3 separate regions of the Homo sapiens genome follow, and regions 1 and 2 are each linked to region 3. Evidence: fine-mapped QTL for protein levels in blood plasma. A gene starts in region 3. Each other region holds a variant in brackets. All regions are shown on one strand. Distances are between the middles of the regions.

Region 1 (8,264 bases), 280 kb after region 3:
TCTCTTAAAAGGATTAGAAAACATATGATACTGCACACTGGAGATGGACCTTATAAATGTCAGGTATGTGGTAAAGCCTTTGACTGTCCTAGTTCTGTCCGAACACATGAAAGAACTCATACTGGAGAAAAACCCTATGAATGTAAAGAATGTGGGAAAGCATTCAATTATGCCAGTTCCATTAGAATACATGAAAGAACTCATACCGGAGAAAAACCCTATGAATGTAAGCAATGTGGAAAAACGTTCAGTTATTCCAGTTCCTTTCAAAGACATGAAAGAGCTCATAATGGAGATAAACCTTACGTAAAGAATGTGGGAAAGCTTTCATTTATCACACAACCTTCGAATACCTGTGAAAATGAATAGTGGAGGACAGGTCTACAAGTATCTACATATCTAAAGAATATGGAAAGTCTTCAGTTTGCTTTCTGGGTTTCAGACTTGTTTGGGAGCTCACCCCTTTCTCCTGTTTCTCACTTTTGGAATAGGAATCTCTATCCTGTGCCTGTCTCATATTTTGGAAATACATGACTAGTTTGGTTTTCACCGGTTCGGAGCTGAAGAAGAATTTTGCCTCAGCATGAATTGAGTCTCATCCATATCTGAGTGATGTGATATTGAGATGACACTTTGGAGTTTGAGTTTAAACATTAGGCTTCATGCTGGAATTAACTGAGACTTTTGAGGCCTTTGGGATGAGATGAATATATTTTACATGTGATGACATGGATTTTGGGGGCCAGAGGTGTAATGTTTTGGCTGAGTGTATGCCACCTCAGATTCATATGTTGAAACCTTACCCCCGTGCCCCCCCTCTCCCCCACAATGTGATGGTATTTGGAGGCCCTGTCTCTGGTGGTTTTTAGGATTGGAGGACATCATGAAGATGGAGGCCTTGTAATTGGGATTAGTTTCCTGATAGGAATCCCTAGAGAGCTAGCTTTGCCCTTCACCATGAGAGGGTGCAGTGAGAAGATAGCTATCTTTGAACCGGGAAGCAGGCCCTTACCAGACATGGACTATGCCAGTGCCTTGATATTGGACTTCCCAGCCTCCCAAACCATGAGAAATAAATGTTTGTTGATTAATTAAGCTTTCCAATTTATGGTATTTTGTTTTAGCAACCCAAGCTAAGACACAATCCAATTTTAAAATGGAGGAAAGGACTTGAATAGACATTTCTCCAAAGAAGATACCCAGATGGCCAATAAGCACGTAACAATGCTCGACATCTTTAGTCATTAGGGAAATACAAATCAAACTCAAGACATACATAGCATCTCATTAGGATTAGTAGTATCAAAGATGGAAAACAAGAAATACTGTCAAGGATGTGGAATGTTGGAGAACATTGTGCACTATCACTGGGAATGTACAGTGGTATAAGCCTGCTGAAAACAGTATGGCAGATCCCCAGATTAAAATATAGAAATAACATATGATCAGCATTTCCATTTCTGGGAAAATAAAAAGATTGAAAGCAGGGCCGGGCGTGGTGGATCACGCTTGTAATCCCAGCACTTTGGGAGGCCGAAGCAGGCGGATCACAAGGTCAGGAGATTGAGACCATCCTGGCTAACATGATGAAACCCCGTCTCTACTAAAAAAAAATTAGCCGGGCGTGGTGGCAGGCGCCTGTAGTCCCAACTGCTCGGGAGGCTGAGGCAGGAGAATGGCATGAACCCGGGAGGCAGAGCTTGCAGTGAGCTGAGGTCGCGCCACTGCACTCCAGCCTGGGTGAGAGAGCAAGACTCCGTCTCAAAAAACAAAACAAAACAAAAAAGATTGAAAGCAAAGTCTCAAATAGGTTTTGTACACCTGTGTACATAGCATCATTCACAATAGGTAAACTCTGGAAACTACTCAGGTTTTCATCAACAGATGAATAAACAAAAGGAAGTTTATACATACAAGAGAATATTACTGAGTCTTACAAAGTAAGGAAATTTACAAATATGCTGCAAGATGAACCTTGACGTGCTAAGTGAAATGGGCCATTCATGTAAAGACAATACGGTATGATTCTACTTATATCAGGTATCTAGAGTAGTCATATTGATAGAAAAAGTACAATACCATTTGCCAAAGGTTAGGGAAATTGGGTAATGGATAGTTATTTCATGGGCATAGAGTTTCAATTTTGCAAGATAAAAAGGGTTCCAGAGGTGGATGGTGGTGATGGTTGCACACTAGTATGAATGTTCTTAATGGCACTGAACTGTACACTTAAAATTGATTATGATGGTGAATTTTATGTATGTTTTACACACAAAAAAGGGAGAAAAGACCACAGTACTGCATAGACCTTGTGGGACCTTCAGCATACCAAGACACTCTAGGTCTCTCTTTTTTTTTTTTGAGATAGGGTCTTGCTCTGTCGCCCAAGCTGGAGTGCAGTGGTGAGATCTTGGCTCACTGCACCCTCTGCCTCCCAGATTCAAAGGCTTCTCATGCTTCAGCCTCTTGAGTAGCTGGGATTACAGGTGCGCACCACCACACCCAGCTAATTTTTGTATTTTTAGTAGAAACGGGATTTCGCCATGTTGGCCAGGCTGGTCTTGAACTCCTGATCTCAAGTGATCTGTCCGCCTCGGCCTCCGATAGTGCTGGGGTTACAGGCGTGAGCCACTGCGCCTAGTCTCTAGGTCTCTTTCCTACTTGTTCTCAGCACTGTTTTTTTCGTTTTTCTATCCATGAGGGACCTGTTCCTACACAGTCCATTTGGATTTTAGTAGGCATTTAGATTTGATCCCCAGGATTGACTTCCCTGTCTCCTCCCCCCTTCACTGTAGACCTGGACCTCACTCCCAGACCCAGGGCCTATGATAACCACTTCCCTTTATTGAAGAGGGATACTTTTAATTTCCTCTGCACACTATTCACAGACATGTATATCAAATATATATCTGATAATTTAAGCAAATAGAAATTCTTTGCTCGGAAATCTTTAAGAATATGAGAAGAAATAGCAGCATATAGTGTCCAGAAAAGGTGGGAGAGAACTTCTTAGGTATGGAAAGTTTATGTAATAGGTAATGTGTAACTATTTACCACTAATTCTGTACCTGGGGTAAAGGTGGTGTTCAAGAAATGGAGAGCCAGGCCTGGTGTGGTGGCTTATGTCTGTAATCCCAGCACTTTGGGAGTCCGAGGCAGGCAGATCACTTAAGGCCAGGAGTTCGAGACCAGCCTCGCCAACACAGCGAAACCCTATTTCCACTAAAAACAGAAAAATTAGCTGGGTGTGGTGGTGCACACCTGTAATCCCAGCTACTTGGGAGGCTGAGGCAAGATAATTGCTTGAACCTGGGAGGCAGAGGTTACAGTGAGCTGAGATCACGCCACTGCACTCCAGCCTAGGTGACAGAGCCAGACTCCATCTCAAAAAAAAAAAAAAAAAAAAGCAGTGGATAAATAAGTCACTGCTTGCACAATAAAGAAATAAATGGGCCAGGCACAGTGGCTCATGTCTGTAATCCAGCACTTTGGGAGGGTAAGGCGGATGGATCACGAGGTCAGGAGTTTGAGACCAGCCTGGCCATCATGGTGAAACCCCAACTCTACTAAAAATACGAAAAATTAGCCATGCATGGTGGCTGACGCCTGTAATCCCAGCTACTCAGGAGGCTGAGGCAGGAGAATTGCTTGAACCCAGCAGGCGGAGGTTGCAGTGAGCCAAGATTGCACCACTGCACTCTAGCCTGGGCGACAGAGTGGGACCCCATCGCAAAAAAAAAAAAAAAAACAAAAAACAACTCTGCAAGGAAATGAAGCAAGTGATCCCTCTTGGAGTGGATTTCATGAAGTACCTTTAAATGGCAGAACATCAGGTTTCCATTTCCAAAATTATTTTTCTTCATGCTCTGACTGAAATAGTGACTGGTGTTGGAGAAACGGGTGGAAGATAGCGTAATAAACCAAATTGTTCTTTCTAGTGGGGAAAGCATGAATCACCCAAAACTAATAATCACGGAATTTACTTACATGGTATGGAAGAATAAGCAACCATAGAAGAAATCAGAATAGTTGTCACAGAACTAATTTACAAGCATTAGTGCTGTTTCCCAGGCCAGGTTCTATCTTGTTCTCAAGGAATAGTTACATCTTCAGTGTAAATTATGGGTACCATTGAGAGAAGTTTTACTTTCTACTTTATGAAAATGATGATGATGACAATAATACCGCAACATGAGTACTGCTAATGGAAACACTTTATGCCCAGGCACAGTGGCTCACGCCTGTAATCCCAGTACTTTGGGAGGCCGAGGTGTGCAGATAGCTTGAGGTCAGGAGTTCAAGACCAGCCTGGCCTACGTGGTGAAACCCCGTCTCTTATTAAAAATATAAAAATCAGCCGGGTGTGGTGGTACACGCCTGTAATTCCAGCTACTCGGGAGGCTGAGACAGGAGAATCGCCTGAACCTGGGAAGCGGAGATTGCAGTGAGCTGAGATCATGCCACCGCACTTCAATCTGTGTGACAGAGTGAGACCCTGTCTCAAACAAAACAAAGCAAAACAAAACGCTTCAGACAGAATTACTGTCAAGCACGTCACGATGCACCTTCTGTGGGTTATCTTACTACATTTTACCTGTCTACTGATGCCCCAGC[G/C]TGGCCACAGCCTGAACTGCAGCACCTTCCTGCAGATACCCCTTTTTTAGTGAACAAGTAAATGCTGCTTCTAGTCCCCTTGGTACTAGGTCTGTGCAGAGCACAGAGAAAGATGAATCCAGCCAGAGACTGCCCCAGAGTAACTCCCAGAGGTGGAATGAGTGAGATAATGCTGGGATTGAGATGTTTGATGTAATCTCATGTCTGTTTTTGCTTTTGCTGCCCGTGTGTTTGAGTTCTTATCCACAAAGTCCTTGCACAGACAAGGTCATGTAGAATTTTACTGTTTTCCTTTAGTAGTTTTACAGTTTCAAGTCTTACATGTAAGTCCGTAATCCATTTTGAGTGGATTTTTGTATATGGTGAAAGATAGGGGTCCAGTTTCAATGTTCTGCATGTTGATAATCCAGTTTTCCCATCACCATTCATTGAAGAGACTGTCCTTTCTCCAGTCTGTGTTTTTGGCACCTTTGTCAAAAATCGTTGGTAAGTGTGTGAATTTATTTCTGGTTTCTCTATTCTGTTCCACTGGTCTGTCTATGTTTATGCCAGTACGGTGCTTTTTTGGTTACTTTAGATTTGTAGTCTATTGTGAAGTCATACTCAAGATTGCTTTGGCTATTTTTGTGGTTCCATATGAATTTTAGGATAATTTTTTCGATTTCTGTGAAGTATGGCTCTTGTATTTTGATAGGGATCACACTTGAATCTGCAAATTGCTTTGGGTGGTATGGACATTTGAAGAATATTCTAAGCTGGGCATGGTGGCTCACATCTGTATTCCCAGCACTTTGGCAGGCAGAGGCAGAAGGATCACTTGAGCCCAGTAGTTTGAGACTAGCCCAGGAAACAGTGAGACCTCGTCTCTACAACAAATTTTTAAAAAATTAGCTGGGCGTGGTGGTGTGTGCCTGTAGTCCCAGCTGAGGCAGGAAGGTTACTTGAGCCCGGAACATCAAGGCTGCAGTAAGCTGTGATCACAGCACTGCACTCCAACCTGGGGTGACAGAGTGAGACTCTGTCTCAAAACAAAAAAAAAAAAAAGAAAAGAAAAATATTAATTCTTTCAGTCCATGAACACAGAATATCCTCCTATTTATTTGTGTCCTCTTCAATTTATTTCACCGGCATTTTATAGTTTTTATTGTAGAGCTCTTTCACCTCTTTGGTTATATTTATTCCTAAATATTTTATTTTTGTAGCTATCATCTATGGAATTGGTTTCTTGATGCCTTTTTCTAATAGTTTGCTGTTGGCATATAGAAACACTACTGAATTTTTTTTTTTTTTTTTTTTTTTGAGACAGAGTCTCGCTCTCTTGCCCAGGCTAGAGTGCAGTGGCACGATCTCGGCTCACTGCAACCTCTGCCTCCCAAGTTCAAGCGATTCTCCTGCCTCAGCCTCCCGAGTAGCTGGGACTACAGGCATCTGCCACCATGCCTGGCTAATTTTTTTTTTTTTTATATATTTTTAGTAGAGATGGGGTTTCACCATATTGGCCAGGCTGGGGCCACTACTGATTTTTATATGTTGATTTTCATATCCTTCAACTTTGCTGCATTTGTTTTAGTTCTAACAATTTTTTGGTGGTGTCTTTAGGGTTTTCTTTTTTCTTTTTCTTTTTTTTTTTTGAGACAGAGTCTCGCTCTGTTGCCAGGCTGGAGTGCAGTGGCACGATCTTGGCTCACTGCAGCCTCCGCCTGTCAGGTTCAAGCAATTCTCCCGCCTCAGCCTCCTGAGTAGCTGGGATTACAGGCGTCTGCCACCACGCCCAGCTAATTTTTGTATTTTTAGTAGAGACGGGGGTTTCACCATGTTGGTCAGGCTGGTCTTGAACCCCTGACCTTGTGATTCACCCGCCTCAGCCTCCCAAACTGCTGGGATTACAGGCGTGAGCCACCGTGCCCGGCAAGGTTTTCTATATATACAATCTTGTCCGCAAAAATGTAATTTTACTTCTTCTTTTCCAATTTGGTTGGCTTTTCTCCTTCCTTCCCTCCCTTCCTTTGTTGTTCTTTTTTGTCTAATAATTCTGATGAGGGCTTCCAATACAACATTGACTAGAAGTGGTGGGAGTGCTTATCTTATTCCAGATCTTAGAGAAAAAGCATTCCATTTTTTTCCTGTTCAGTATGATGTTTGCCGTAGGTTTGTCATATAAAGCTTTCATTGTGTTGAGATATGTTCCTTCTATACCTAATTTGTTGTGAGTTTTTTTTGTTTTGTTTTGCTTTGTTTTGTTTGAGACGGAGTCTCACTCTGTCGCCAGGCTGGAGTGCAGTGGCACGATCTCAATTCACTGCATCCTCTGCTTCCTGGGTTCAAGTGATCCTCCTGCCTCAGCCTCCCGAGTTGCTGGGACTACAGGCATGTGCCACCACGCCCAGCTAATTTTTTGTATTTTTAGTAGAGATGGGGTTTCACCATGCTGGCCAGGATGGTCTCGATCTCTTGACCTCATGATCCCGCCTCGGCTTCCCACAGTGCTGGGTTTACAGGCATAAGCCACTGCGCCCGGCCCTGTTGTGAGTTTTTATCATGAATATATGGAATGTTATCAAGTCATTTTCTGCATATATTGAAATGATATTTTTTTCTTGTTGATTCTGTTACTGTGATGTATCACGTTTATTGGTTTCCATATGTTGAACTATCCCTACACCCATGGGATACATCCTACTTGGTCAGGGTGAATGGTCTGTTCAATGTGCTGTTGAATTCAGTTTGCATGTATTTTGTTGAGGATTTTTACATCTATGTTAATCAGGGATGTTGGCCTGTACTTTTTAGTTGTGTTTGTTTGGTAGAATTCAGCAGTGAAGCCATCAGGTCCTGGGCTTTTCTTTGATGGGACACTTTTTATTACTGATTTAACCTCATTACTTCTTATTAGTCTGTTCAGATTTTCTATTTCTTCACGACGCAATTTTGATAGGTTGTACGTGCCCAGGAATTTATCTATTTCTTCTAGGTTTTCCAATTCATTGGTGTGTAGTTGTTCATAATAGTCTGTTTTATAATTCTTTCTATTTCTTTAGTATAAGTTGGAATGACCCTGTTTTTTTTGTTGTTTTGTTGTTGTTTTGAGACAGTCTTGTTCTGTCGTCCAGGCTGGAGTGCAGTGGTGCGATCTCCGCTCACTGCAACCTCCCCGTCCCGTGTTCAAGTGATTCTCCTGTCTCAGCTTCCTGAGTAGCTGGGATTACAGGCATGCGCCACCATGCCCAGCTAATTTTTTGTATTTTTAGTAGAGACGGGGTTTTACCATGTTGGCCAGGCTTGTCTTGAACTCCTGACCTCAAGTGATCCTCCTTCCTCAGCCTTCCAAAGTGCTGGGATCATAGGCGTGAGCCACCACACCCAGCCAACTCCTTTTTTTTCTTTTTCTTTTCTTTTCTTTTTTTTTTTTTTGAGATGAAGTCTCGCTCTTGTCTCCCAGGCTGGAGTGCAATGGCACGATCTCAGCTCACTGTCACCTCTGCCTCCCCAGTTGAAGCGATTCTCCTGCCTCAGACTCCCGAGTAGCTGGGATTACAGGTGCCCGCCACCAAGCCCAGCTAATTTTTGTATTTTTAGTAGAGACGGGGTTCACCATGTTGGCCAGGCTGGTCTCGAACTCCTGACCTCAGGTGATCCACCCGCCTGGCCTC
Region 2 (8,242 bases), 120 kb after region 3:
GAGTCCGGGAGTCAGAGGTTGCAGTGGGCCGAGATCGCGTCACAGCACTCCAGCCTGGCGACAGAGTGAGACCCTATCAAAAAATAGCAGCAGGCCAGGCGCGGTGGCTCATGCCTGTAATCCCAGCACTTTGGGAGGCTGAGGCGGGCGGATCACGAGGTCAGGAGATCGAGACTACCCTGGCTAACACGGTGAAACCCCGTCTCTACTAAAAATACAAAATATTAGCCGGGCGTGGTGGCCGGCGCCTGTAGTCCCAGTTACTGGGGAGGCTGAGGCAGAAGAATGGCGTGAACCTGGGAGGCGGAGGTTGCAGTGAGCCGAGATCGTGCCACTGCACTCCAGCCTGGGAGACAGCGCAAGACTCTAGCTCAAACAAACAAACAAACAAAACAGCAACAACAACAACAAAACCATCCTCCCCTCCCGAGGGGACAGAACAGAAACGAATGGGCGAGTGCCGGGCCAAGCAGTGGGTCTCCAGCAGGTGGCATTAAAATAGGAATTTTGGCTGGGGACGGTGGCTCACACCTGTAATCTCAGCACTTTGGAAAGCCCAGGCGGGCGGTCACCTGAGGGCAGAACCAGCCTCGCCAACATGGTGAAATGCCATCTCTACTAAAAATAAAAAATTAGCCAGGCCTGGTGGTGGGTGTCTGTAATCCCAGCAACTCGGGAGGCTGAGGCAGGAGAATCGCTTGAACCAGGGGGGCAGAGGTTGCAATGAGTCAAGATTGCACCACCGCACTCCAGCCTGCGTAACAAGAGCGTGTAACTC[TTG/G]TCTCAAAAATAAATTAAATAAATAAATAATAAAAATAAAAAAGAATCTTCATTCATGGGAAGTCGAGAACACATGAAAACAAGTAAAGGCCGAAGCGCAGTGGCTCACGCCTGTAATCCCAGCACTTTGGGAGGCTGAGGCGGGCGGATAACCTGAGGTCGGAAGTTCGAGACCAGCCTGACCAACAGGGAGAAACCCCGCCTCTACTAAAAATACAAAATTAGCCGGGCATGGCGGTGCATGCCAGTAGTCCCAGCTACTCGGGAGGCTGAGGCAGGAGAATCGCTTGAACCCGGAATGTGGAGGTTGTGGTGAGCTGAGATCGGGCAATTGCACTCCAGCCTGGGCAACAAGAGCGAAACCCTGTATCAAAAAAAAAAAAAAGAAAAAAAAAGGAAGAAAAGGCCTAAAGGCGCCGGGCGCGGTGGGTCACGCCTGTAATCCCAGCACTTTGGGAGGCCGAGGCGGGCGAATCACGAGGTCAGGAGATCGAGACCAGGTGAAACCCCGTCTCTACTAAAAATACAAAAAAATTAGCCGGGCGTGGTGGTGGGCGCCTGTAGTCCCAGCTACTCGGGAGGCTGAGGCAGGAGAACAGCGTGAACCCGGAAAGCGGAGCTGGCAGTGAGCTGAGATCGCGCCACTGCACTCCAGCCTGGGTGACAGAGCGAGACTCCGTCTCAAAAAAAAAAAAAAAAAAAAAAAGAAAGAAAGGGCCTAAAGGCTCCTCGCGGCTTCCGTATTACGGAACACACGCACAAAAATGGCGGCGACCTGGTTTACAGGGGCTAAAAATGGTCACGTGATAAACCAACTTCCGGTCTTTCGCCCAAAGCACGTTCCCTACTTCCTGTGCTCTTGCGGAGACGCGCGCGTCGGGGTTTAACGCGTTTCTGGGCCGCCGTAAGCCCGGCCTAGGGGCAGCTTTGACTCGAGAGCCGGCTATAGGCGCATGGAAGGTTCCCTGGAACGGGAGGCGCCAGCGGGGGCGCTGGCCGCCGTGCTAAAGCACAGCTCGACGTTGCCGCCCGAAAGCACCCAGGTCCGGGGCTACGACTTCAACCGCGGTGTGAATTACCGCGCACTGCTGGAGGCCTTCGGCACCACCGGCTTCCAAGCAACCAACTTCGGGCGCGCTGTACAGCAAGTCAATGCCATGGTGAGGACCGGGCGGAATTTCTAGGGACGCGGAGGGGCGTGGCTTGTAGAACCAACGCGGTACTAGACGGGGGCAGCGTTTCCAGTGGAGGGGATATGTCTTTTATTTGAGTTGCCCAATAGTTGGAGGAAGGCGGGACCTATTCTGGGCGGGAGTTTCTGTCCTGGGAAGGGGATTTTGCACTCTGGTAGTTACATGCTGGTACGGTAACCTGAGGAGGCGAGGACTGATTCTTGGTGTGGGGGCGGGTTCTAGGTACATTTAAAGCTTTCTGGAATGGGCGGAGCCTGGGGCAAGACAAATTAAGGGAGGATATGGGAGGAGGAGCCTAAGTCTGGGCGGTTCTTGAATTTAGATTTGCTTTTCCCAGCGGGGAAGGGACCGGATCTGAAAGGAGATGCTCTCTGATTCCTAAAAGGGTGGGGGCTGGCTGGGCGCGGTGGCGCATGCCTATAATCCCAGCATTTTGGGAAGCCGAGGCGGGTGGATCAAGAGAAGAGGAGTTCGAGACAAGCCTGGCCAACATGGTGAAACCCTGTCTCTACTAAAATGCAAAAAATTAGCCGGGCATGGTGTTGCGCGCCTGTAGTCCCAGCTACTCGGGAGGCTGAGGCAGGAGAATCGCTTGAACCCGCGAGGTGGAGGTTGCAGTGAGCTGAGATTGCGCCACTGCACTCCAGCCTGGTGACAGAGCGATACTCTGTCTCAAAAAAAAAAAAAAAAAAAGGCCGGGCACGGTGGCTCATGCCTGTAATCTCAGCATTTTGGGAGGCCGAGGCGGGCGGATCACCTGAGGTCGGGAGTTCGAGACCAGCCTGACCAACATGGAGAAACCCCGTCTCTACTAAAATGCAAAAAATTAGCCGGGCATGGTGGTGCGCGCCTGTAGTCCCAGCTACTCGGGAGGCTGAGGCAGGAGAATCGCTTGAACCCGGGAGGTGGAGCTTGCAGTGAGCCGAGATCGCGCCATTGCACTCTAGCCTGGGTAACAAGAGTGAAACTCCGTCCAAAAAAAAAAAAAAAAGGGTGGGGGCAAATCCTGAACGTGTGTCTTGAGATCTGGTCTGGGAAGGGGCAGAGTTTACACAGGAGATGTTCCTTGGTCCCCTGTAGAACTGGTCCTGTATCCCTGAATGTGCAGGGCCTGGGGTGAAATCTGTTTCTGGAGCCCACCTGGAGTCCTGAGTCTGGGATTTAAGGCCAGTGCTTAACTTGACTTGGCCCTTACTCACAGATCGAGAAGAAGCTGGAACCACTGTCACAGGATGAAGACCAGCACGCGGACCTGACCCAGAGCCGCCGCCCACTTACCAGCTGCACCATTTTCCTGGGATATACATCCAACCTCATCAGTTCAGGCATCCGTGAGACCATTCGCTACCTTGTGCAGCACAACATGGTGGGGACCTGGTGAGGCCGTGGCCTTGGCCTCTGGGTCAATGGGCAATGCAGTTATTGATCGTTTAAGTGAGATGGGCAGATAGGGGTCTGTTATAAGCAGAGGAATAGAATCAAGTTTTGTTTTGTAGCAGAGCTCCCTCATAAGAGTCACTGGACAAGGATGAGGTTAGAAGTTCTGCCCAGAATGAGGGCAGGGGCTTCCTTCTTGGGCCAAATTCACTGCCTTGTGGCTGCAGGTGGACGTATTGGTGACCACAGCTGGCGGCGTGGAGGAAGACCTCATCAAGTGCCTGGCGCCCACATACTTGGGCGAGTTTAGCCTCAGGGGGAAGGAGCTCCGGGAGAACGGGATCAATAGGTGAGAACCCTGAGTGGTGTTGGGCAGGGGAGCTGGACCAAGGGTCCTGGGGCCTGATGCCTACATGCCTCCTGTTCTCAGGATCGGAAACCTGCTGGTGCCCAATGAGAATTACTGCAAGTTTGAGGACTGGCTGATGCCCATTCTGGACCAGATGGTGATGGAGCAGAACACAGAGGTGGGGCTGGGGCAACCTGGAGGGGCCAGTTCAGTGGGAGTCAGGGGAGGCATGGCCTGAAGGTCACATCCTCTCCTAGGGTGTAAAGTGGACGCCTTCTAAGATGATCGCCCGGCTGGGCAAGGAGATCAACAACCCAGAGTCCGTGTATTACTGGGCCCAGAAGGTGAGGACCTAAGCGGGAGCAAAGTAGCCAGACTTTGGCATGTGTTAACTTATTTCATCTTTCCAGCCTCCTGGGGATTCAGTACTGTTATTCTCAGCATCCTCACTCTTAGATGAGGAGACTCAAACACAGATAGGCGTGGTAATTTTTTTTTTTTTTGAGACAGGATCTTGCTCTGTCACCTAGGCTGGAGTGCAGTGGTGTGATCACAGCTCATTGCAGCCTCAACCTCCTGGGGCCAAGCAGTCCTCCCACCTCAGCCTCTCGAGTAGCTGGGACCACAGGCACATGCCATCATGCCCAGCTAATTTTAAAAATTTTTTGTAGAGATGGGGGTCTCCCTGTGTTTCCCAGGCTGGTCTTGAACTCCTGGCGTCAGGCAGTCCTCCCACCTTGGCCTCCCAAAGTGCTGGGATTACAGGCGTGAGCCACTGTGCCCAGCCAGGCTAGGTAATTTTGTCTGAAGTCACACAGATAACTAGTGGGGCCTCAGCATCCTTATGCTCCTCCCAGACTATCTCTGGAACAGTAGAGGCAACACTTAGCAACTCTCCTGGGGCCTGGCTCAGGGTCCCACACTCCCAGATGCTATAAAATAAGAGCTACCCACTCCCTTTAATTAGAGAATCAGAACCTGAAAAAAAAAAAAAAAAAGCTACATAGTCTTTTTTTTTTTTTTTTTTTTTTTGAGACAGAGTCTTGCTCTGTCGCCCAGGCTGGAGTGTAATGGTGTGATTTCAGCTCACTGCACCCTCCACCTCCCAGGTTCAAGTGATTCTCCCGCCTCACCCTCCTGAGTAGCTGGGACTATAGGCACCCACCATCATGCCCGGCCAATTTTTGTATTTTTCTACAGATGGGGTTTCACCATGTTGGCCAGGCTGGTCTTGAACTCCTGACCTCAAGTGATCCACCCGCCTTGGCCTCCCAAAGTGCTGGGATTACAGGGGTGAGCCACCACACCCAGCCTACTTACTCTTTCTTTTTTACGAGACAGGGTCTCATTCTGTTTCCCAGGCTGGAGTGCAATGGCACAATAATGGCTCACTGCTGTCTTGAGCTTCTGGGCTCAGTCGATTCTCCTGCCTCAGCCTGCTGAGTAGCTGGGACTACAGGTGCGTGCCACCATGCCTGGCTAATTGTTTTTGTAGAGATGGGAACTCACCATGTTGCACAAGCTGGCTCTTTTTTTTTTTTTGAGACGGAGTTTTGCTCTTGTTACCCAGGCCAGAGTCCAATGGCGCAATCTTGGCTCACAGCAACCTCTACCTCCTGGGTTCAAGCAATTCTCCTGCCTCAGCATCAAGTTCCCAAGTAGCTGGGATTATAGGCATGTGCCACCACCCCTGGCTAATTTTGTATTTTTAGTAGAGGCAGGGTTTCTCCATGTTGGTCAGGCTGGTGTCGAGCTCCTGACCTCAGGTGATCCACCCGCCTCGGCCTCCCAAAGTGCTGGGATTACAAGCGTGAGCCACCGCGCCCGGCCACAAGCTGGCTCTTTAAAAAAGAATTAGACGGCCGGGCACGGTGGCTCATGCTTGTAATCCCAGTACTTTGGGGGCTGAGGCGGGTGGATCACCTGAAGTCAGGAGTTCAAGACCAGCCTGGCCAACATGGTGGAACCCTGTCTCTACTAAAAAAACAAAATGCAAAATTAGCTGGGCATAGTGGCATGCGCCTGTAATCCTAGCTACTCGGGAGGCTGAAGCAGGAGAATCACTGGAACCCAGGAGGCAGAGGTTGCAGTGAGCTGAGATAGTGCCATTGCACTCCAGCCTGGGCAACGAGTGAAACTCCGTCTCAGGGAATAAAAAAAAAGAGAGAGAAACAGCTCAGCAAGCTAAGAATAGGCTGGTTCTTTATGTGCCAGGCACTATACTAAGTGTTTTCTGTGGGTTTTCTCATATAGGCCTCATCTGTGAGAGGTGTTTCTGTTATGCTTATAATTGAGGAAACAGTCCTAGAGAAATTAGGCACCCCATCCACAGTCAGATAGTCATATAGCCAGCATGGAGACGAGGCTCTGAGCTCCAGCCACTGTCCTGTCATGTTCTCTGCAGAACCACATCCCTGTGTTTAGTCCCGCACTTACAGACGGCTCGCTGGGCGACATGATCTTCTTCCATTCCTACAAGAACCCGGGCCTGGTCCTGGACATCGTTGAGGGTGAGGCGCTAGGGCCACAGAGGAGAGGGGAAGGAGGGCTGGCTGAGTCCAAGGCCTGACTTCGGCGCTCTTCCCCCAGACCTGAGGCTCATCAACACACAGGCCATCTTTGCCAAGTGCACTGGGATGATCATTCTGGGCGGGGGCGTGGTCAAGCACCACATTGCCAATGCCAACCTCATGGTGAGTGGGGGTGGCGCTTCGGCCCACTCTGCAGACATGCTGTGTGGTGGGCCTATGCCATGTGCTGGGTAGACAGCATGAACTAGACAGGCCAGGATCCCTGCTCCCCGGGACTGATGTTCTAGTAGGGGAGATAGCAAACAAGTGACATCCACGTCAGGGGGCAGTCATTGCTACGGGGAATACTAAATGATGGCATGAGAAGAGAAAGGGGTGCTGTCCAACAAGAGGTTTTGGAAGGAGGCTTCTGGAAGTGTGAGCTGGGAGCAGGGGTTTGGGGAGGCATCTCCCAGGAGCTATGTGGTTGTCTCCCGTGCCAGGAGTTTGTGCTGCTGTACTAGCATTGAGCTTCTGGATTGCAAAGTTCCCAGGAGAGGGAACAGCCATTGCAAAGGCTCTGGGGCGCCTGAAGTAATCCAGGAACAGCTGGGTACCTGGTGAGGGGAAGGTGGAGTGGTGAGGGCCAGGAGGTGATGCAGGGAGGTGCCACAGGGAGCCTGCTGGGCCCTGTGGGCTGAGGCGGGGCTTTGGCTTTTGCACTGAGAGAAGTGGGAGAGGACTTGACTCGGGTTCCCATGCTCCCCCTGGTGGCCATGTGGTGAACAGATGGTGGCAGGTGAGTGAGAACTCCAGTCCAGGACAGTGGTGACCATGCAGGGATCAGGAGGCAGGCGGTGGTTGGATTTGGAGGGCTTCTGAAGATAGAGTTGCTGGCAGCTCCTGCCTTGCAGATGGGGCAGGGTTGTTGACACCTGGCTGTTGGGTCTGGGGAAACACAGCCATCGTTGCCCAGCAGCTCTAGTGACCCCAGACATTGACATGGGCCCTGTCTGGGAGCGAATGTCTGTGAAGGGCTTCCTTCATCTGGGACACACCTCTCAGCCTGTTTGGCTACGGTGTCCTCCCTCTGTGTCTGTCTCCTGTGACTGGCTGACTGGGCCCACCGTGCCCCCGCCTCCCCACAGCGGAACGGGGCCGACTACGCTGTTTACATCAACACAGCCCAGGAGTTTGATGGCTCTGACTCAGGTGCCCGACCAGACGAGGCTGTCTCCTGGGGCAAGATCCGGGTGGATGCACAGCCCGTCAAGGTAAGCGCTGGCTGGGTGGGGCATAGGGTCTCTGGGACGATGAGTGTGGGTCCCATGGCTTACCCAGGTTCCCCCCTACCCAGGTCTATGCTGACGCCTCCCTGGTCTTCCCCCTGCTTGTGGCTGAAACCTTTGCCCAGAAGATGGATGCCTTCATGCATGAGAAGAACGAGGACTGAGCGGCTGCGGTCCCAGGAAGGTCTTACCCCCTCTTCTATTTATTAATTTGCAGACCCAGCCCCTCCCCTACTTTTTGGTCAGCTACGTCTCTAGAATAAGATGGTATCTGAAGTCCTTCCATGTCTGTGTCTCGGTCCTTGGTCCTGTTGGTGGGTCCCCTGGCTTCAGCCTGCTCCATCCTCTGCCTCATAGGCCTCCTCTCGCCAGCACTGGACGCTGCCTCCCATGGCGGTCAGCAGGCAGGGCTCTGTTGGGTGGTAGGCCAGCGACTGCACCACACCGGAACCCACAGGCAGGGCCAGAGCCAGCGCACCCTGTGGAGCGAGGGGTAGGGAGTGGTTATCTGTGGCTGGGCTGTACCCTGGTTTCTGAGGTCCCTGGGCACCCCCCATCTCAGTCCTGCCTGAAGCCCTCAGTCACCTCTCCCCGACCTTCAGCCACCTGCCTCTAATTGCCTCCTAGACACTGCAAAATTAATCTACCTCAGACTGAGCCCCTCAGTAGCTCTGTCCTACCAGGTGTTCAGGCCGCAAGTCTTGGGAGCCTCTTATTGATTTTTTATTTTTTAAAATAGCAGAG
Region 3 (8,000 bases):
TCTCTGTCTCTGCCCTTCCTGGCACCTATCCCCGAGTGACAGCTTCAGTGTCCTGCCCACACCCTCTCTTCCCCTGGGAGCTGCTTTAAAGCAGTATCTATTTCAATATATCCAAGAGTAAACCGAGCCTTAGAGAAAAGTAACCAGCCCAAGGGGACGCCTCCAGTGCGGAGCTGGGTGGAGATTTGCAGCCCGCCGAGGAAGGTCCCTTTGCAGCCAGCAGGAGAAGTAGGGCAACGGGGAGCCTTTGGGCATCGTCATCCCCGCCGCCTGAGGTTACCCTTTAGATGCTGCAGCCTCAGCTGCTCCCAGCTGTCACCTTCGCCCTGCTGCCCTAAGTACTGATAGTCCTGGTAGACCAGGGCAGGGGTCGCCAGCTGCAGGAGTAGCAGAGGCGCCAGCAGCAGCGCCCCCGGGGTCCGCGCCATGCTGGACTCCAACGGCCCCCAACGCGCTCCCAGGCGGAGTCGTGCGCGGAGTCTGCGGCGGGCGCATTACCCACGCGGGCAGGTGCAGTGGTCCCGGCCGAAGGCAACGCGTCTCCCCCCGCCGCCCGCAGGCGCATGGACCCGGCCGCACGCTCCCCCGCACCTGCGGGCGCAGTGGACCCGACCGCTCCGCTCGTCCGCTCCCTCCCCCGCGCCGTGCACGTCTTGGTTCGGGCCGGGCATAAAAGGCTTCGCGGCCCAGGGCTCACTTGGCGCTGAGAACGCGGGTCCACGCGTGTGATCGTCCGTGCGTCTAGCCTTTGCCCACGCAGGTATGAACACCCGGAGTGCACCTGGCGGGAGGACCCCCTTCAGGCTGCTTTGGCCCGATCCTGACTTTAGTGCTGGCCGCCTTTGCTTTCCATCCGCTATAGTGGCCTCCTTTGTCCTTGCGGGGGAAACCGAGGCCACAGCCTTGCAGCGCAGGCCTGATCGCCCGACTTCCCGCCCCCTGCTCGTGCGGGCCTCACTGTCTCCTTCTGGGCTGGGGGCTTGCGACACCGCCCTCCGGCCGACTCGCTCGTGGGGTGCTGGTGGCAGTGGCTGGGTCACTCGTGCTCTGGTCAGGAGAGCGGGTCTCCGGCAGCCTCCGGGCCTCGTAGACCGGGTACCCGGGAGGGTGAGGGTTAGTGCTGTCGCCTCCGCCGTGCTGACTCAGTCATAGGGCCCAGCACGCAGCGCGACCTTGGGTTGGGAGGACAAAGTGTCTTCCCGGGCGCACTGACCGGGCGGGGGTCTCAGCTTTCAGTCATGGCCTCCGGTAACGCGCGCATCGGAAAGCCAGCCCCTGACTTCAAGGCCACAGCGGTGGTTGATGGCGCCTTCAAAGAGGTGAAGCTGTCGGACTACAAAGGTGAGCGCCGCCCGGAGGGGGCCCAGGTAGAAGCGGGGCCGTGCATGAGAGAAGCTGGGCCCTAACTCCTCTGTGTCCCTCCTCCCCAGGGAAGTACGTGGTCCTCTTTTTCTACCCTCTGGACTTCACTTTTGTGTGCCCCACCGAGATCATCGCGTTCAGCAACCGTGCAGAGGACTTCCGCAAGCTGGGCTGTGAAGTGCTGGGCGTCTCGGTGGACTCTCAGTTCACCCACCTGGCTTGGTATGAGCAGGGGCCAAAGAGGGAGGTTGCAGCTAAGCTCACACCCTCAGGTCCTAGCAGTGTGGCTTCGTGGCCATTGCTCAACCTCTGGAACCTGCGTTTCCCCATCGTGAAAATAATGGAAACATTGCCGCCCAAGTCTTTAAGGATGATGACAGTAATTAGCATTTGACAACTAGTTGCCTGGTATATAGAGTTGCAGATGCAACTCAGATGCAACTCTATCTACTCTATGTACTTAGTTCCCAGGAGGGAGGCTGTGCTGCCCTATTTCATGAAGATGGAAACTCCAGTTCACCGAAGTGAAGGGCTGTACCCCATGACACAGCTAGAGGAGGATGGGGACTCTTAACACAGGCTCTCTGCTGGGTGATGCTGCAAGTTACAAGTACATGTGAAGCCACTTAGCTGGAGCTGTGCCTCTCAAACTCAGTCTTCCCAGCCATGGGGATACAGTCCTTGCACCCAACCCAGGGTGGGGTGGGTGAGGCTCCCAGCGGCCTACTCTAAAGCCCCTTATCTCCGGCCTCCAGTGCTTATCACATTGGGCCCACAGGGTGAGGACCCTGCTGTGCCAGGCATCCTGAGGCCCCAACTCTGTCTCCCCTACTCCCAGGATCAACACCCCCCGGAAAGAGGGAGGCTTGGGCCCCCTGAACATCCCCCTGCTTGCTGACGTGACCAGACGCTTGTCTGAGGATTACGGCGTGCTGAAAACAGATGAGGGCATTGCCTACAGGTACTGTGGGACCCTCAGCCCGGCTCAGGGAGCGCCCTGCCCCCCATTCCTGTGATGCTGGGACCACTCCTGTACAATGTCTTCTCTGCCCCCAGCCCTGTGGCTAGCAGCGGGTGGTTGGTAGTCCCTTCCTTGTCTCTGGCAGTGGGAGCTATCAGCTCCTCACTGGGAACCCTGATGTCTTCAGGGGCCTCTTTATCATCGATGGCAAGGGTGTCCTTCGCCAGATCACTGTTAATGATTTGCCTGTGGGACGCTCCGTGGATGAGGCTCTGCGGCTGGTCCAGGCCTTCCAGTACACAGACGAGCATGGGGAAGGTGAGCAGATACACACATGACACATGGGTACATACTGAGCGCCTCCGTCACTCATGCAAACATTCACTGCCTGTCCTCTTACCTGTCCAGATGGGTGTTAGGGCCCCAAAGAAGATTCAGCTCAGGGCTTTGTCTGCAGGATGTTTCTAATGTGGTAGGAGACAAATAACGCCTGACATTCAACCAAGGTGGACAAAGGGGCCGGGCTCAGTGGCTCACGGTTGTATTGCCAGCACTTTGGGAAGCTGTGGCAGGTGGATCACCTGAGGTCAGGAGTTCGAGACCAGCCTGACCAACATGGTGAAACCCCGTCTCTACGAAGAACACAAAAAATTAGCTGGCCGTGGTGGTGCACACTTGTAATCCCAGCTACTTGAGAGACTGAGGCAGGAGTTCGCTTGAACCCAGGAGGCAGAGGTTGCAGTGAGCTGAGATCGCACCGTTGTACTCCAGCTTGGGCAACAGAGCAAAACTCAGTCTCAAAAAAAAAAAAAATTAGCTTGGTTTGTGAAGCATGCCTATAGTCCCAGCTACTCAAGAGGCTGAGGCTGGAGGATCACTTGAGCCTGGGAGGTCAAGGCTGCAGTAAGCTGTGATCGCACCACTGCACTCCAGCCTGGGTGACACAGCAAGACCCTGTCTCAAAAAAACAAACAAACAGGCCGAGCGCGGTGGCTCACGCCTGTAATCCCAGCACTTTGGGAGGCCGAGGCGGGCAGATCATGAGGTCAGGAGTTTGAGACCAGCCTGGCCAACATAGTGAAACCGCGTCTCTGCTAAAAATACAAAAAAATTAGCTGGGTGCGGTGGCAGGTGCCTGTAATCCCAGCTACTTGGGAGGCTGAGGCAGGAGACTCCCTTGAACCCGGGAGGAGGTTGCAGTAAGCCGAGATCACACCACTGCACTCCAGCCTGGGCGCCAGTGTGAGACTCCATCTCAAAAACAACAACAACAAAAAAACCTGTAGGGGTGGGGCAGAGGGACAAAGATGGGACTAAAGGAGCCAAAAAGACAGGAAGATGCTGTGTCTCATGCCTGTAGATGCTGTGTCTCATGCCTGTAGTTCCACCTACTCTGGAGAGTGAGGCAGAAGATTGCTTAGGCCCAGGAATTTGAGTCGAGCCTAGGCAACATAGCAATACCCCATCTCTTTTTTTTTTTTTTTAAGAGATGGGGTATTGGTTAAAAAAAAAAAAAAAAAAAAAGAGGCCAGATGCAGTGGCTCACACCTGTAATCCCAGCATTTTGGGAGGCCTAGGTGGGTGGATCACCTGAGGTCGGGAGTTCGAGACAAGCTTGACCGACATGGAGAAACCCAGTCTCTACTAAAAATACAAAATTAGCCCAGCCTGGTGGTGCATGCCTGTAATCCCAGCTACTTGGGAGGCTGAGGCAAGAGAATCGTTTGAAGCTGAGAGGCGGAGGTTGCAGTGAGCTGAGATCGTGCCATTGCACTCCAGCCTGGGCAACGAGTGAAGCGAAACTCCGTCTCAAAAAATAAAAAAAAAAAAGAGGCCGGGCACGGTGGCTCATGCCTGTAATCCCACCACTTTGGGAGGCTGAGGCGGGCGGATCAAGAGGTCAGGAGATCGAGACCATCCTAGCTAACGCGGTGAAACCCTGTCTCTACTAAAAATACAAAAAAATTAGTCGGGCGTGGTGGCGGGCGCCTGTAGTCCCAGCTACTCTGGCGGCTGAGGTAGGAGAATGGCGTGAACCTGGGAGGCGGAGCTTGCAGTGAGCAGAGATCGTGCCACTGCACTCCAGCCTGGGCAACAGAGCAAGACTCCATCTTAAAAAAAAAGAAAAGAAAAAAAGAAGAAAAAGGAGAGCTGGGTGGCAAAAAGAAATTGAAGAATTAAGAGTAGGAAAAACACCAGCTAGAAAATACTGAACTTGGCCAGGTGTAGTGGCTCACGCCTGTAATCCTAGCATTTTGGGAGGCCAAGGTGGGTGGATCACCTGAAGTCAGGAGTTCGAGATCAGCCTGACCAATATGGTGAAACCCTGTCTCTGCTAAAAGTACCAAAAAATTAGCAGGGTGTGGTGGCGGGCACTTGTAGTCCCAGCTACTCAGGAGGCTAAGGCAGGAGAATCACTTGAACGCGGGAGGCAGAGGTTGCAATGAGCCGAGATCACGCCATTGCACTCCAGCCTGGGCAACAGAGGAGGACTCTGTCTCAAAAAAAAAAAAAAAAAAAGAAAGAAAGAAAAAAGAAGAAAAGAAAAAGAGAAAATACTGAACTTGGCTAGGCATGGTGGCTCACACCTGTAATCCCAGCACTTTGGGAGGCCAAGACGGGCAGATGACTTGAGGTCAGGAGTTCGAGACAAGCGTGACTAACATGGTCTCTACCAAAAATACAAAAATTAGCCAGGCGTGGTGGTGCACCTCTGTAATTCCAGCTAGGGAGTCTGGGGCATGAGAATCGCTTGAACCCAGGAGGGAGAGGTTGCATGAGCTCAGATCATGCTACTGTACTTCAGCCTGGGCAACAGAGCAAGACTCTGTCTGAAAAAAAAAAAAAAGAAAAAATACTGAACTGGGCTTGGAGGGTTTATCTTAATATCCACATTCCTGGGCCTGGACCACTTGCTTCCAGCATTTTCTTCTGCAACACAGGCCCTTGCTTTGCTTCACCTTGAACCTGGGGCTGTAGCCTTCATGTGCATCCTTGTGTCTTCCCACAGTTTGTCCCGCTGGCTGGAAGCCTGGCAGTGACACGATTAAGCCCAACGTGGATGACAGCAAGGAATATTTCTCCAAACACAATTAGGCTGGCTAACGGATAGTGAGCTTGTGCCCCTGCCTAGGTGCCTGTGCTGGGTGTCCACCTGTGCCCCCACCTGGGTGCCCTATGCTGACCCAGGAAAGGCCAGACCTGCCCCTCCAAACTCCACAGTATGGGACCCTGGAGGGCTAGGCCAAGGCCTTCTCATGCCTCCACCTAGAAGCTGAATAGTGACGCCCTCCCCCAAGCCCACCCAGCCGCACACAGGCCTAGAGGTAACCAATAAAGTATTAGGGAAAGGTGTGAGTCTGTGTTGGTGTGCTCTGTCCTTTCGTCCTCCCCTGCAACCCCCTTCCTTCTTCAGGCTCAGGCTTGGGAAACTGACCCTGTGGTTGCTCATCTTCGCCACACGGTGGCGGTCTTATCACATGCTTAGTGCCTGCTCTTTTCCTGCTTGCGCTCAAGGCGGTTTCGGAGGGGTAGGGTATGCCGTTTGTCCCTTGCAAATCCCAGGATGCCCTACATCCAGAAATCTGGCCATGCAAGGCAAAGCCCACATTTTGTCACCAGCCAGCCTGGGTTCAAATGCCGTTTAAGAGCTGTGATCGTCTCTGGGTCTCTTCAGCAGTAAAATGGGACTGCAAACCCAGATCACCATGCACGTGGTAAAATTTGTAGGAGATAAGTTATGTGAAGCTCGGGGCTGAGGCCCCTGTGTAGGGCCCAGTTCCTAGTTCCTAAGACGGCTTCCTCGAGCTGAAAGGAACCCAGCCCAGTGTAGTCTTATGGGGAAGAGGGTGGGGACCCAGTCTTAAGAGCAGAACCAAGAATGAGAGCCTGAGCTACGTGCAGAGTGCAGAGTCCCTGCTGTGAGCTCTGCCCCACCCCAGGCTGGAAAGGTTGCCTGTCTGCCCCTGGGGTGGGAGGGTGGCAGTTAGGCTAGAAGGCAGGTATTAGCAGCAAGGCAGGGTTCCCAGGGGTGCAGTTTAATATTGTGTGCGTTCAGGAAAGTAGTTTTGCTACTCTATGCCCCAATTTCCTCCTACAGAACAGGGCTAATATGCTCATTTAATCCACAGATCCACTATTAATGCTGGTACCCACCTAATACCCTCTAAGGGTCACTCATCTCCCTTGGAATTTAATCTACACTCCTCCCCAAGGCCCCTGCTCAGTCTCCCTTGACATCTGCCCTGTTGTGGTTCACTCCATTCCAGACAGGCTGGCTTCCTGCTGTTCTTTCACAGGCTCACCTGGCTACATGAATTTTGCCATTTAAGAGCTGCTCCCAAGGCCGGGCGCAGTGGCTCACGCCTGTAATCCCAGCACTTTGGGAGGCCGAGACGGGCGGATCACGAGGTCAGGACATCGAGACCATCCTGGCTAATACAGTGAAACCCCCTCTCTACTAAAAATACAAAAAATTAGCCAGGCATGTTGGCAGGTGCCTGTAGTCCCAGCTACTTGGGAGGCTGAGGCAGGAGAATGGCGTGAACCCGGGAGGCAGAGCTTGCAGTGAGCCGAGATCGTGCCACTGCACTCTAGCCTGGGCAACAGAGCGAGACTCCGTCTCAAAAAAAAAAAAAAAAAAAGCTGCTCCCAGTTGAGCGGGGTGGCTCAGGCCTGTAATCCCAGCACTTTGGGAGGCCCAGGCAGGCGGATCACCTGAGGTCAGGGGTTCGAGACCAGCCTGGCCAACATGGTGAAACCCTGTTTCTACTAAAAATACAAAAATTAGCCTGGCATGGTGATGCACGCCTGTAGACCCAGCTACTTGGGAGGCCAAGCAGGAGAATCGCTTGAATCCTGTGGGTGGAGGTTGCGGTAAACTGAGATCGAGCCACTGCACTCCAGCCTGCCTGGGTGACAGAGGGAGACTCCATCTAAAAAACACAAACAAACAAACAAAAAACTGTTACCTCTGATGCTGTTGTTACCCAGGATTTTCTCAGGACCCCACTTCTTCAAATCTGTTGAAAAGTCATGGCCAGGCACGATGGCTCACGCCTGTAATCCCAGCATTTTGGAGGCCGAGGCTGGCAGATGACCTCAAGTCAGGAGTTCAAGACCAGCCTGGCCAACGTGCTGATACCCAGTCTCTACTAAAGATACAAAATTAGCAGGGCGTGGTGGCAGGCACCTATAATCCTAGCTACTTGGGAGGCTGAGGCAGGAAAATCGCTTGAACCCGAAAGGCAGAGGTTGCAGTGAACCAAGATCGCACCACTGCACTCAAGTCTGGGTGACAGAGCAAGAATCTGTCTAAAAAAAAAAAAAAAAAGTCACTGCAGGAGAAGAGCACTGGCTCACGCCTGGAATCCCAGTGCTTTGAAAGGCCAAGGCGGGAGGACTGTTTGACCCAGCAGTTCCAGACCAGCCAGGGCAACATAGCAGACCCCATCTCTACAAAAATAAACAAAATTAGCCAGGCATAGTGGTGTATGCCTGTAGCTCTAGCTAGTTGGGAAGTTGAAGTGGAAGGCTTGCTTGAGCACAGAAGGTCTAGGCTGCAGTTAGCTATGATTGCACCACTGCGCTCCAACCTGAGCAACAGGACAAAGACCCGTCTCTAAAATATAAAAAAGAAAAAGTCACCCTATTAAAGGTCCATGTTCCCACTCCATTC

Direction of the effects. Positions count from the first base shown, and alleles are read on the strand shown. Strength reflects both the effect of a copy and how common the allele is.
For the plasma level of the protein whose gene starts at base 700 in region 3, allele G in region 1 goes with a higher level than allele C (moderate association).
For the plasma level of the protein whose gene starts at base 700 in region 3, G is the low allele of the variant in region 2 and TTG is the other (weak association).

The links. PIP is the posterior inclusion probability: the model's chance that the variant is causal. Protein levels are from antibody-based Olink assays in UK Biobank. Linkage for the fine-mapping came from a reference panel and not from the study's own genotypes, which makes the PIPs less certain.
Region 1: its variant is fine-mapped to the plasma level of the PRDX2 protein (UK Biobank, PIP above 0.99).
Region 2: its variant is fine-mapped to the plasma level of the PRDX2 protein (UK Biobank, PIP above 0.99).

The regions. Positions count from the first base shown.
Region 1 is chr19:12,518,551-12,526,814 of GRCh38, reverse strand. It overlaps ZNF564 (zinc finger protein 564), which reads left to right. Exons shown (of 4, transcript NM_144976.4): 4 at 1-1,442. The coding sequence ends at 369. Among named protein-coding and RNA genes, the nearest start is that of ZNF564, 29 kb to the left of the region's middle. RefSeq lists a silencer at 4,486-4,780. The variant G/C (reference allele first, on the strand shown) is at 4,615.
Region 2 is chr19:12,675,258-12,683,499 of GRCh38, reverse strand. It overlaps WDR83 (WD repeat domain 83), which reads right to left. Exons shown (of 11, transcript NM_001099737.3): 11 at 7,668-7,977. The coding sequence ends at 7,828. DHPS (deoxyhypusine synthase) reads left to right here and starts at 1,620. Exons shown (of 9, transcript NM_001930.4): 1 at 1,620-1,940; 2 at 3,175-3,339; 3 at 3,578-3,699; 4 at 3,781-3,877; 5 at 3,957-4,043; 6 at 6,104-6,209; 7 at 6,289-6,392; 8 at 7,358-7,483; 9 at 7,567-7,783. The coding sequence starts at 1,734. The coding sequence ends at 7,662. RefSeq lists enhancers at 1-399, 923-1,445, 1,511-1,805, 1,446-1,969, 7,044-7,093 and cis regulatory regions at 1,329-1,863, 1,889-2,389. The variant TTG/G (reference allele first, on the strand shown) is at 779.
Region 3 is chr19:12,794,500-12,802,499 of GRCh38, reverse strand. It overlaps PRDX2 (peroxiredoxin 2), which reads left to right and starts at 700. Exons shown (of 6, transcript NM_005809.6): 1 at 700-760; 2 at 1,230-1,341; 3 at 1,431-1,584; 4 at 2,201-2,323; 5 at 2,511-2,641; 6 at 5,334-5,677. The coding sequence starts at 1,239. The coding sequence ends at 5,419. It overlaps THSD8 (thrombospondin type 1 domain containing 8), which reads right to left and starts at 431. Exons shown (of 2, transcript NM_001386800.1): 1 at 281-431. The coding sequence starts at 428. RefSeq lists silencers at 353-742, 752-937, a cis regulatory region at 340-889 and enhancers at 537-1,095, 1,423-1,622, 5,872-6,281.